2 separate regions of the Homo sapiens genome follow, and region 1 is linked to region 2. A link means that fine-mapping ties the variant in region 2 to the expression of a gene that starts in the linked region. Tissue or cell type: whole blood. Region 2 holds a variant in brackets; the other region holds the start of a gene. All regions are shown on one strand. Distances are between the middles of the regions.

Evidence for each region. PIP is the estimated chance that this variant, and not a neighbour inherited with it, causes the effect.
Region 1: it holds the start of EEPD1, and the variant in region 2 is fine-mapped to the expression of EEPD1 in whole blood (INTERVAL, PIP above 0.99).

The regions. Positions count from the first base shown.
Region 1 is chr7:36,151,751-36,154,365 of GRCh38, reverse strand. EEPD1 (endonuclease/exonuclease/phosphatase family domain containing 1) reads right to left here and starts at 1,112. Exons shown (of 8, transcript NM_030636.3): 1 at 692-1,112; 2 at 1-233. The coding sequence starts at 41. RefSeq lists a silencer at 981-1,700.
Region 2 is chr7:36,286,479-36,289,083 of GRCh38, reverse strand. EEPD1 (endonuclease/exonuclease/phosphatase family domain containing 1) reads right to left here. Exons shown (of 8, transcript NM_030636.3): 6 at 1,307-1,445. Among named protein-coding and RNA genes, the nearest start is that of MATCAP2, 79 kb to the left of the region's middle. The variant C/T (reference allele first, on the strand shown) is at 1,386.

The DNA.
Region 1 (2,615 bases), 130 kb after region 2:
TCCCTGGGGATGGAGCGGTGGCAGCCCAGGGTGCTCCCCATGGTCCGCCAGGATCAGGCTCCCGGGAAGGCCGCACCACTGCAGAAGAGCTCTCTGGCTAGGGAGGAAGCCCAGTAGGCCGTACAAGCACAGAAAAACGGAAGGTGCAGGATTCAGGGACTGAAGAGGTTACTATAGACAAACACCGAATCTTCCATGCCTGGCGTGTCCAAAATTACCTTTCACTTGGCCGCCTAGAAAATAAATCAATAAACATAGAAACCCATTGAATTAAGAAATTTGCATTAGCACCCCCTACCTAGTGCTAGAGTTAGTAACCAGGAGTCGGGGACTGGTGGCTGCCCGTGAACCCCTAAAAACGCAGGCACAATGAGGCTAGGCCCATGTGGATTCTCCTCTAGGGACGTCCGGGTTTTATCACACTGGAGTCCAAAAAGGCTACGAGCCGCTTCTCTTGGGAAGAGACCTATCCCCATCAGCCTCATGCCTCTCCTCCAGGCCTCTCTCAACTCTGACACTTGGGTCACCCACACTTGGGCTCGCGCAGACGGGGTGGCCACTCCACCTCCCCCACGCTCCGCATCTGACACAGCGCTACCTGCAACCTGGGAAGTCCGTGCTCCCCGGAGCGGGCACTGAGAAGGGGCTTATCGACCCCCCACCCGACCTGCCGCGGGTCCCCGCGCCCCACCTCTCGGCCGCTCTGCGGGGCGCCGGTTCCTCTTCCACCTGCGGCTCGGAAGCCTGAGCCCAGCCCGGGACAGCACGGGCCCCCTGCCTCCAGCCTAGGCGTCCGCGCGGGTGTGGGTCACTGGTCAGGCCCTGGAAGCCGACTACGCCGCTTCGGTCTGCGTGTCCCGGCTCTTTCTATGGGAGAAACTTAGCATCGCTCTCCCAGAGTGAATAGAAGCCGCAGGGCTGCTCGGAGGCGGCGGCAGCGGCGGCGAAACCCGCCGCCGAGGCTGCACCGGGGCTTGCGGCGGCGCCGCCGCAGTTGCGTTTACCCCGGCAAAAAGTCCTGCGCCCAACTCGGGCGGGGATCCGCCAGAGCCAGTCCAGACCCAGCACCAGCCGCACGGCTCCCGCTCGCAGTCGGTGTCAAAGCCAAAGTCCCGGCCGCGCCGCGCCGCGCCGCTCGCGCCTCCGCAGGCACCGCGGCCACGCCTCCTCCGCGCGGCAACTCCTCCCCGGGACTCCCGAGGGCACGTGGGGGAGGGGCCCTGGCGCGGGGCGAGGCCTGGCACCAGTGGGTGGAGAGAGGAACCCGAGAGCGCAAGGGCGGGCCTGGAGTGGGAGAGGCGGGGCCATGGAAGAGGGGGCGGCATCAAGGCTCAAGAGGGTGGAGAACGAACCAGAGAGCGCGAGGGGAGGCCCTGGCGTGCGAGAGGAGGAGCCATGGGTGTGGGGGCGTGGCCTGGCACAAATGGGTGGAGAGCAGAACCCTGGAGCGCGTGGGGCGGGCCTGGAGTGCGAGAGGCGGGGTCATAGAGTGTGGGAGCGGGGCCAGGGCGCGATGGGGTAGGAAAAGCGGGGGCGGGGCCATGAGCGCGGGGGTAGGCCCCGGGAGCGCAGAGGCGGGACTTAGGGGGCTTAAGGGGCGGAGCCGGCGCCGTGCCGGCGAGGGCGGGTCACAGGGAGGCTGTCCTAAGTCAGCTGCCCCCGGACCATGGTTGCCGCCCGGGGCCTAGGACTGGTTGTGCCTGGTAGAGGCTGTTTAGGATTGCCCGAGGCGAGATCTGCTCAGCTGCTTTTCGTCTGTCTTTGAGGTGTGGGGATGAAGGCCGGGGCAGTCCCTGAGAGTGCATCGCTGTAGGTCCAGGGTCTCACGGAATTTTGCAGAACGTTCCAGAGGAGACTGAATGGGATCGTCTTAATTTCTGTCCCCACTTTCGGCCTTTTCTTTTCTTCCACCAGTGTATTACCTTTGCTCCGCTCAGAGAGATGTCCTCTAATAACGCCAGCGACGCATTGTGCTCCTAGCAGAGGGCACGCACCACCCTCCTGTGTGTTCGCATAGGTCAAATACAGGTTTGCTCCTTTGCACATTTAGCGCTGTGAGTAAACAAGGATAAGTTTTTGTAATATTAAGTCTAATCATTACGAAGGAGGGAAATGGGGGCTGCTTCCCAAAACCCAGAAGAGTTTTTGCATCACACTGCTAAATGACAATTTGGTTAAAGATTAAAGAGCCCTCTGCATTATAGTGGATACCTAGAGCTAGAGTATTCGATTAAGCAAATCATGCGGTGATATCGTTGAATACTTTGACCCTGGACGTTTAGTGTTCTCTGAAGTTTCATCCCCAACCAATGTGACCAGTGCATCTGGTTTCAATTCCAAGGACTGGGTCAGCAAAAATAGTACCTCTCACAGGCGGAAGGTACTTTGGTTGTAAAATTAGCGGCAGCCCAAGTTTGGAAAATGCTACTGCCTTTCTGAGGCACATTCCCCTGCTATGTATATTGGTCAGAAAACCAAGTCAAACTAGCTTAGACCAAAAAAAAAAAAAAAAAGGTCGGGGGGAAATTTTTGGTTCCTTGTTGAAAAGTTAAGGTAAGGAATCTTACCTCAAGTCTGGTTGCATCCGACCCAAGTGATGATGGGGTCATTAGGAC
Region 2 (2,605 bases):
CCTACAGTTTGACTGAAATATTTTTGTAGTAAAATCTTCATGAATCTCCCAATTTGAGGGGCCAGTTTAACGAGGAAGTCTTAGAAAGCTAGAGAATATTGGTCCAGACTCAAAAGATAGAAGAGAATTCCAAGCCTCCAACTACAAACTCACCTAGACAAGGTCAGTGTTCTGAAAAATCAAGCCAGATGGATAAGATCACAGTCTTCACAGCCTTGTCAACCTTTTCTTTTGGTAAACCAAGTGCAGAAAACCATCTATATTAGTTGGGGCATAGCCCCCCTTTGTCCTGGAGTTCAGCTCCTTTTTTTTTTTTTTTTAAGAGATGGGGTCTTGCTGTGTTGCCCAGACTGGAGTACAGTGGTGCGATCAAAGCTCACTGCAGCCTCGACTTCCTGGGCTCAAGTGATTCTCCCTCCTCAACCTCCTGAATATCTGGGACTACTGGTGTGTACCACCATGCCCGGCTAATTTTTTTCGTTCTTTGTAGAGACAGGGTCTCACTATGTTGCCCAAGCTGCTCTTGAACTCCTGGGCTCAAGTGATCCTCCCGCCTTGGCCTCCCAAAGTGCTGAGATTACAGGCATGAGCTACCGTGCCTAGCTAGAATTCTGCTCTTTTCAGTGTTCTCTTAATTCTTCTCATGTTTTAGAGTCAACTCGTGTACATGAAGTCCCTACTATGTGCTTGGTATTGCTGCAGACACTGTTACTTAGCCCTCTGGGTACTGCTATGAGATGAGTACTGTCCCCCATCAGATGGGGGCCTGAAGTGGTTTGGTGGCTTGCCTGAGGTCCTACAAGATTAAAATCCAGCATTTCTGACAGGTTCAGGGCTTCTTCAACATGCTCTGTATCCCGCCAGAGAGAAAAACTCAATTCACCAATCATCAGCAATTTACCACTTCCCCTTGTCACCCCCGTCTCTCTTTCACAGGAAGAGCACATGCAAATCTGCAGGCGGCACCACCGGAGTGATGCCCGAGGCAGCTGGTCCCAGGATGAGCTGTCTTCGGGGAAGGGCATCATCACTTATATTCTTCCCCCCTAATCCTTTCTATCTAAATGAGGCTAAAAAGCCACAGAGCTGACAGCTTGGAACGCATATGCTAGGTCCACAGAGGCACAGATGTGGCCGTGCAGGGTCAGCTGGGCTCCATGAGATGCCAGAGGTTTGACTGTCCCCTGTACCCGCGACTCACATTGCTGACAAACAGCCAGCCCAAGTGGTCAGAGATGGCTCAGAAGAGGCAGCCCTGCTGCTCTGCAAAACAGTGGCCGAGTCACAGCAAAAGACAATGTCCTACCTTTCAGGGTTTCCTGTAGGGTCTGTGCAAAGCTCGCCAACCGGTGGCCATCACTGTGATTCTTGCTGGGATTCTCGCT[C/T]CCCAGGAGGGTCAGGGCTGCCAGGTGAAGGTTAACAAGGGTCAGGTCGTGACTTCCCACCTAGGCAGCAGGAAACAAAGCAACAGGGAGAGGCTCAGAAGCTCATATTTCCTGTATCCGTTACAACCGACTCATAAATAGCTTTGTGCACAGAGTTGACAATGGTAAACAAGAACAAGGCTGGCTCACACCCCCAGGAAATAATGTAAGGTCTTTCATCTTCGATTTTTCCAAGGCACCTGCAGGAACAAGGCCTATTTTGTTCTACCAGTCCACCCCTAACATCCCACCGCCTACTCCTCACTTAGAGCCTAAAAGATTGGGCATATCTGCATATCTGTAAATGTTTGAGTTTTTTTCTTTCTTTCTAAGCAGTCCTATATAAGAAGGAGGTGGAAGGCCAGGCATGGTGGCTTATGCCTGTAACTCCAGCACTTTTTTTTTTTTTTTTTTTTTTTTTTTGAGAAGGAGTCTCACTCTGTCACCCAGGCTGGGGTGGAGTGGCATGATCTCAGCTCACTGTAACCTCTGCCTCCCGGGTTCAAGTGATTCTCCTGCCTCAGCCTCCCAAGTAGCTGGGATTATAGGTGTGTGCCACCATGCCCAGCTAATTTTTTTATTTTTAGTAGAGACTTCACCATGTTGTCCAGGCTGGTCTCAAGCTCCTGACCTCAAGTGATCCTCCTGCCCTCAAGTGATCCTCCTGCCTCAGCCTCCCAAAGTTCTGGGATTATAGGCATGAGCTACGTACCCGGCCACAACCCCAAGCACTTTGGAAGGCTGAGGTGGGAGGATCACTTGAGGCAATTTGAGACCAGCTTGGCCAACATAGTGAGACCCCATTTCAATCAATCAATCAAAGGAGGTGACTCTGACAGCTGGTTGTTATTATAGACTTGGGGCTTTTCTCCAGAGGGCCAGCCTGAGGTCTCCTGCCAGGACCCACCGCTGGGATGTGCCTCCTCCTCCTCCCTACACCTCCCACACACGCTCCTCTGTGTTCTTTTCTCTCTGGAGCCCACTATAGCCAGATGCTGACTTTAACCTAATTTCAAACGTGTCCAAACCAAAAGCTTACAGAACCTGGCCAGCCTAGGACATGCCCTAGCCCTGCATCCCCAAGGGCAAGTGCAGAAACACAGGGTCAGAGTTTGTCTCTGGGCATCACAGCACTGCTCAGCTGCTCAGGGCTTAGCAATCTTGCCCTTCCATTTGTCATG